Linked DNA regions of Homo sapiens. The protein of the gene in region 1 purifies or fractionates together with the protein of each later gene. This does not show direct contact. Each region holds a gene or a part of one and is shown in the gene's direction. Other genes may lie near its edges. The genes, in order: GUCA1B and SCARB2.

Region 1 (4,251 bases):
GCACATGTACCCTAGAACTTAAAGTATAATAAAAAAAAAAAAAAGAAGAAAAAATAGCTGGGTGTTGTGGTGTGCACCTGTAATCCCAGCTGCTCGGGAGGCTGAGGCATGAGAATCACTTGAACCCGGAGGCGGAAGTTGCAGTGAGCCGAGATCACACCACTGCACTCCAGCCTGGGCGACAGAGCGAGACCCTGTCTCAAAAAATAGAAATTTAAAAAAAAAAAGCAAAGAAAAAGAAAAATGTGTGTCCCTGGTCTTTTGATTTCTTGGAGGTGTCATTTTTATGTTACATTAAAATAAGCATGAATATGTAATTGTTCAAAAGCAAATTTTACATGACCTATAATGTAAAAGTAAGAGCCTTCAAAGATATTTTAGGCCATGCTCCCAGATCCTTCTCACATGTTAGTATTTTGGAGGAAATGTGAAAAAGGCACTACCCCTAGGTCTTGTGTGAAGGGTTGGAGGGAGGCATTTGTAGTTTAAATCAGAAAGTGAAAAGCTCCCAAGATGAAAGGTGTAATCTGGAAAGGAGCTTCAGGGACCGAGTTAGCCTGGGAAGAGAGTTGCTCACCTAGAGCCCTTCCCATCATAGATTCTGCCTCTTTTCACTAGACCGTCTGAGGGGCGAGTCCCAGATCACCAGCAGATTCTGTTTTATGGCCTAGGACTTGATCTCACTTCCTCTCTGGATTTGAGTCTCCTGTCTCCAAGATGGGCCTCCCTGAAGCAATGTGAGGCCCAGCTAAAGAGATAGGGAGTGAGTGAGATGGGAGGATCCCAGCCTAGCACCCCGACTCTTTCTTCACTCTGCATCTCTCTGCTTACCTCTCAGTTTCTTCCCCTTCTACCTCTTCAGAGTCTACCAGGGCCAGCTTGGTTGCTTTGTTGACAAGGCTAAGGGAAGGAGTGAGGCTGGAGGAGTTTAGGCTGGAGGTCAGAACTTCCTGGGGAATCTCTTTTTTTTTTTTTTTTTTTTTTTTTGAGACAGAGTCTCACTCTGTCCCCCAGGCTGGAGTGCAGTGGTGTGATCGCAGCTCACTGCAACCTCTATCTCCCAGGTTCAAGTGATTCTCCTGCCTCAGCCTCCTGAATAGCTGGGATTACAGGTACCCACCACCATGCCCAGCTAATTTTTTGTATTTTTAGTAGAGACAGGATTTCACCATGTTGGCCAGGCTGGTCTCGAACTCCTGACCTTGTGATCCACCCACCTCGGCCTCCCAAAGTGCTGGGATTACAGGCATGAGCCACCGCACCCGGCCACCTGGGGAATCTTCTAATAGTCTTAGGGCAGCTTAGCTGGCCTGGACCCACCTCCCTTGCCACCTGCCCCCTGCACCGACTGATCATGTTCAGTCACCCAGGAGATGATGGAGAGGCTGATCAGGCCTCCTGGAAAGGGAGGAAGAGGGCCCTAGTTGGAGAGATCCATCAGCAGAAGCCAGGGAGGAGATACAGACCCTTGCTCCCTGATGCTCCTCAGGGCTAGCATGGGGCAGGAGTTTAGCTGGGAGGAGGCGGAGGCAGCTGGCGAGATAGATGTGGCGGAGCTCCAGGAGTGGTACAAGAAGTTTGTGATGGAGTGCCCCAGCGGCACACTCTTTATGCATGAGTTTAAGCGCTTCTTCAAGGTCACAGACGATGAGGAGGCCTCCCAGTATGTAGAGGGCATGTTCCGAGCCTTCGACAAGAATGGGGTAAGGCACCCTGAAGGGAAGGACCAGTGGCCAGTCCACCTGGCGCCTTCCTCCACAAGTGTCCTCAGGGAGAGCTCCCAGTTCCCCACTCCTCGGCTCTTTCTCTGCTCTTCTTTCCACTCCGTCTCTCTTTACCTTTTCTGTCTCACTCACCAAACCCTTCTGTCTCTTCTCTTCCTTTTGTCCCTTTCCATCTTCTCTGTCTCTCCTTCCCTCCCTCCATCTCTTAGCTGTCGGCTGATGCTCCCTGTGTCCTCTTCTTGAGAGCTGAAGGGCGACTGGCAGACAGTCCAGGTCCTCTCTTTGTGTATTTTTGACCAAGACTCTGCAGCCCAATGACCGGGTTTTCGCATCTGCCAGAGCCCCTGTCACTCTAAACACTAGGAGCAAAAGAGATGTTCTAAATGAGACAAGGTATCTTAGCATGGGCTATGAGCTCCCTCTTGTTGGGGTTCTTCTGAGACTGGTCAGATCCTCCCTGTCAAGAATGCTGGAAGAGGCTCCTGCATGTATTGGGAGACTGGGCGAATGACTGCAAAAGCCCCTTTCAGCTCTTCAAGTCCTGGAAGGTTTCATTAAATCATTCAGACTAGAGTTTCTCTAAGCCCACAATGTCACTAGCAGCTAAGAAGATAACACATCTTGTAAATGCACCAGGGGATTGAATTTTAAATTTCAATTCAGTTAAAAACCCCTTGATTATTTAAGGTTATCCAGTTCAGTGCCCTGGCAATCCTCAAATACCTCAAATACCTCAAATGCCCTGGTATTTGCCTCAAATACCAATTTAATCTGAAGAAAGTGTCAGTTCTCCATTCCTCAGTGCGTGGAGAACTTAGCTTTCTAAGCTGAATCACTGGGAATGCCACTTCAGGTCTCATCCTGTCGCTGGTACCAGTCAGTGCACGTCCCCACAGTGCCTGTCCCGGGACAGGAGGGTGAGGTCAGCACCTTCAATTCAACAGAACCTCCTTAGAGATGAACCCCATCGACCACCCCACAGGGCACAGAGCCAGTTTCGGACTTCTCAGCGCTCCGCCTCTCTTAGGTCTCCTCTGAATCAGCAGCAACCCTGGGTGGGAGGGGCAGACTTTTGTTATTCCAAATTAAATGATGAGAAAGCTGGGCAAAAGGGAATGAATCGATTTGCCCAAGGTCTTAAGTGCTCCTGCCTAGAAGGCAGGTTTTTTAAAGAGAGAAGATGACTTTTTAAAATAATTGATGTTTTTTTAAAATGTAAGAAAAGTAAACAAATATATCAGGTCATAAATAATAAGACTCATTTAAGTCCATCAATCTTCCCCAGATTCATCTAAAAATCAATACGATCATGATTCAAGATCCAAAGGGCTGATTAAGCCCCTAGGCATATAGTTGTACTCCTTATACCTCATCTCTTCTTATAAATCGGCATATGATGTTCATCAATGTTTTTTCCTTTTTGAATAACTTTTTAATTTTACTATGATTCTAAATTTACAGAAGAGTTATAAGAATGATACAAGTAACTCCCATATGCAATTTATCCAAATTTCCCCAGTTATTCACATTTTATATCATTTACTTTATCATTCTGCCTCTCTCTGTATACATACATATATATAATGTATCCTATAAGTATATATACATATACATGATACATAATTTATACATATACTTTTTTTAAGAGAAAGCTATAGATATCATGCCCGTTTATCCCTAAGTATTTCAGTGTGTATTTTCTTTTTTGTTTTTGAGACAGAGTCTCGCTCTGTCACCCAGTGGCATGATTTCAGCTCTTTGCGGCCTCTGATTTCCCAGGCTCAAGGGATCCTCCCACCTCAACCTCTCAAGTAGCTGGGATTACAGGTGTGCACCACCATGCCTGCTAATTTTTGTATTATTTATTTATTTATGTTGGTAGAGATGAGGTCTCGCCATGTTGCCCAGGCTAGAGTGCAGTGGCACAATCTCAGCTCACTGCAATCTCCACCTCCTGAGTTCAAGCAATTCTCATGACTCATCCTCCTGAGTAGCTAGGATTACAGGTGCACACTCCCATGCCTGGCTAATTTTTGTATTTTTAGTAGAAACGGGGTTTCACCATGTTGACCAGACTGGTGTCGAACTCCTGACCTGAAGTGATTTGCCCACCCCGGCCTCCCAGAGTGCTGGAATTACAGGCATGAGCCACTGCACCCGGCCAGGTTTCTTTCTTTTTTCCTTTTTCTTTTCTTTTCTTTTCTTTTCTCTCTTTTTTTTTTTTTTTTTTTTTTTTTTTGAGTTGGAGTCTCGCTCTGTCACCCTGGCTGTAGTGCAGTGGTATGATCTTGGCTCACTGCAACCTCCACCTCCCAGGTTCAAGCGATTCTCCTGCCTCAGCCTCCCCAGTAGCTGGGACTACAGGCGAGCACCACCATGCCCAGCTAATTTTTGTATTTTTAGTAGAGATGGGGTTTCACCATGTTGGCCATGATTGTCTCCATCTCTTGACTTCATGATCCACCCGCCTCGGTCTCCCAAAGTGTTGGGATTACAGGCATGAGCCACCATGCCTGGCCTTCCTTTT
Region 2 (3,819 bases), on another chromosome or scaffold:
AATATTTACTGAGTGTGTACCATTTGCAAGGCAGTGTGCTAAGAGCTATGGATATAACACTAAACAAGAGGCAGTCTCTACCCTTGCAGATTTTATAATCCAATTTAAACTCCTGGGCCCCTCATATTCTTAAAAATTATTGAGGACCCCAAAGAACTTATGTTTCCATACCTATTGATAGTTACAATATTAGAAATTGAAACTGATATGTATTTTTGAGAAATGTTTAAAACAGAAGACTACACAAGCACATATTCCAATATGACATCATTATATATCACGTAACCTCTGGAAGACTCCACTCTACACTCAGAGAAATAATAGAATTAAAAACGCAAATGATACCTTAGTATTAAAATAGTTTTGACCTTGTGGGCGCCTCCTAAGAAGGTCTTCGGGCTCCCCAGGGGTCCTGAGATCACACTTTGAGAACTGTTGATCTAGTTTTCATTTAATTATTTTTTTAGAATATTTTTAAAAATACATAATATCCCTGTTTTATATTCCTGTAAGGCCAGTTTGGAAGCTATCTTGTTAATGTTTTCAAACAACCAGGATTTTGCTTGGTGTGTCTTTGATTTACTGTGTCCTTTTGGCTTTCCTGTGAGTCCAGTGTTAAAAATAGGAGTTTGGGCCATCAGTAATTCCAGTTCCACAATCTCTTGTCTTTCCCCGAGTGCTGATCAAAGTAGACAAGAGCATTCATATCTCCATAATTGAATTACTCAGTAATTCCCTTCTGGCCTCAGCCCTGCGGGGATTTTCAACCCATATGACGTAATTTGGTATTTTAATCTAGTATGAAAGCTCTCTTTGAAGGTAGATGTCCTGTCGTATTTAGTTTTGTGTCTTTTCTTACTGCCAAATGCAATGTCTTATTCAAAATAGATGGTCAGTAAGTGTTACTTGGATGAATAGAGAAAATAATTTCTTTGGAAATGATTTTGTTTGCATTTTGTTGTTTAGTCTCACATTTTGCCTCACTCTGTAGGCCAGTGGTCACATGTTTGTCTCATGAATGATTTATACCTTTAAAATCTGGAAACTTCACGTATTGGTCCAGATTTCCAGCTTCTCTTGAAACATGTGGATGTTCTTTGGTACTCGTCATACCAAGTTCTGTGTGGTAGCTGTCTCGGCAGAAAAGAGGCTGACCCTTAGAAGAGACCTGCCTTCCCTGTTTCCCACTGTCTTAGTCCATTCAGGCTGCTGTCACAAAATAGCATAGACTGGGTGGCTTATAAACAACAGAAATTTATTTCTTACAGTTCTGGAGGCTAGGAAGTCCAAGATCAAGGCCCCGGCAGATTTGGGGTATGGTGAGGGTCCACTGCCTCATAGATTATGGTCTTCTCACTCTAACCTCACATGGCAAATGAGCTCTCTGGGGTACCTTTTATGAGAACTAATCCCATTCGAGAGGGTTCTACGCTCGTGACCTAATCACCTCCAAAGGCCCCACCTCCTAATCTCACCACCTTGGGGGTAAGGATATCAACAAAGGAGTTTTGAGGGGACATAAACATTCAGACCACAGCACCCACCGTCCTTTGCGCCCTTATTGGCTCCCAAGGCCCAGTGAAGGTATCCGTTGTTGTGCATGTGCTGTTGTGTTTCTTAGAGTAGAGAAATGTTTCTCTATATCTGACACTCCTTACCAAAAGAAGGAAAATGAAAGATAGCTTGAGAGGATCATGTGTTTAACAGAAATGGGGGAGGGCATGTTTCTCTGTAGAAATGAATATTGCTGCTGGGGTTTGACATGCAAACAAATGTACAAACCCATGGCCTGTGTCACTCATTTGCCCTAGCCATCTGGCCCCTTCAGCATCTGAATTTTACACACTTTCCAGAGACAGTGTGAGGCAGAGTGCCATTGTTACACTAATGTAATCACTCATCACAAGTCCCATTTTTTAAAATTCATTTTTTAATTGACAAGTCAAAATTGTACATATTTAGGGCATGCAACATGATGTTTTGAGAGAGATATACATATAGATATACATAGTGAAATGGCTAAATCAAGCTGTTTAACATACACCTTACCTCAATTACTTATCTTTGTTTTGTGGTAAGAACACAAAATCTAATCTCAGCATTTTTCAAATATACAATATTTTGGGGTTTTATTTTATTTTATTTTTGTTTTTGTTTTTGTTTTTGTTTTGAGATAGGGCTTCTCTCTGTCACCCAGGCTGGAGTACAGTGCCACTACCATGGCTCACTGCAGCCTTGACCTCCTGGGTTCAAGCCATCCTCCTGCCTTAAACTCTAAAGTTGCTGGAACTACAGGTGTGCACCATGCCAGGCTAATTTTTAAATATTTTTTTGTAGAGATGGGGTCTTGCTGTGTTGCCCAGGCTGGTCTCAAATTCCTGAGCTTAAGCAATCCTCCCACCTTTGCCTCCTAAAGTGCTGGGATTACAGGCGTGAGCCACTGTGCCTGGCCCAATATATTGTTATCCACTGTGATCACCATGATGTACATTAGATCTCTTGAATTTGTTTATATCAAACTGAAATTTTGTGTCCTTTGACTAACATCTCACCAGTCCTCCCAGCGCCCACAATTCCCATTTTAAGGATATTTTCTTTTAACACTGTACTTCTGATAATCAACAGTAGTGGAAGAGGAGACATAGAAATAGGTAGGTAATGAAAATATTACTTATTTCAATTTTGAGAGATATAATCACAACCAAACAGGTTGCAAAATAATGAGACTGGCTGTGCAAGTTACACACAGAATGTGGGCCTTGTTTCCGTGGCCTTATTTCTTATTTATTCACATCTGAAACTCCTCTTTCTCACCCGCCTCCCCACTCCCCATATATGTATATATATATTCCCCTCCCGCTCCCAATTTTCACCTGGTTCTATGTTTAAGTTTCTATCGGTAGCTGCTTTTTTTCCCTTTAGGTCATCAGTTCTCAAACTTGGCTGTACATTTGTAATCACCTAGAAACTTTCAAAAATAAGTTAGTGGGTATTTTGTAGCAGGAGGTTTTTTGGGATTGTCATTCCACCATATTGTCCTGTATGTAATTTATAAACAAAGTACAGTTCACCCATGAGCTACATTTGAATCTGAACTATCAGAGCTCATTAGTTAAAATTATGACAGTTGCAAAATGAAAATGAGTTAAGCAACAGTGACATAAATAAATGAATGCCAATACATTTTTACTGAGTTAAAATAAGGTCAGGGAATAAGAGTAGAATGTTAATGGCAGTTTCTTTCTTTTATGTAAACAGTGGAAATTACTTAAATTACTGCATGAGTCTGGGTTGGGTTTGCTTCGTTTCAGGGAGCAATTTTAAAAAACAAAGCAAATCAATTGGTGTTTTGCCATTTGATGAGTTTTATTAATCTGGAGTCCAGTATACAATTAGGCCAATATACCATCCATACACAATTAGGGCAAGTTCTCCAAGTTGGTCTGCATTATCTCTGGATGAATTTAGACTGTGCAGATGGCAACATGGATGCTTAAGTTGTGTTTAATTATGAAGTAGCACTTTACTGACCTTAAAGAACAACCAGTAGTGCTCTCGAATCCCGAAACTTTCCTTAAAGGTATTACTGATTCCCGTGAAAGCCTAATGGATTCCCTGAGTGCTTATTTTTATCACTTGGAAGTGGCTTACATCAGGACAGCTGGTTTCACCACTCTCATGGTGTTGCCTTCCCAAAAGATTGCTGTTAGGCTGACTTGGGTTGTGGCTGTATTAAGTCATGTCAGTGTTCAGCAGTCAAGCTAATCCAGCCTGCATCTGTTCCTTCATCTGCAGGTCAGGTGTCAGCCTGGCCAGCGA

The links.
Region 2: the proteins of GUCA1B (region 1) and SCARB2 purify together in Homo sapiens (affinity purification with mass spectrometry; one large-scale study listed by BioGRID and IntAct). This does not show direct contact.

Annotation. Positions count from the first base shown.
Region 1 is NC_000006.12:42,192,066-42,196,316, reverse strand, and holds the start of GUCA1B (guanylyl cyclase-activating protein 2), read left to right. Parts: upstream 1-1,360; 5' UTR 1,361-1,496; coding exon 1,497-1,703; intron 1,704-4,251. UniProt on the Homo sapiens protein: Stimulates two retinal guanylyl cyclases (GCs) GUCY2D and GUCY2F when free calcium ions concentration is low, and inhibits GUCY2D and GUCY2F when free calcium ions concentration is elevated.
Region 2 is NC_000004.12:76,203,677-76,207,495, reverse strand, and holds part of SCARB2 (lysosome membrane protein 2), read left to right. Parts: intron 1-3,819.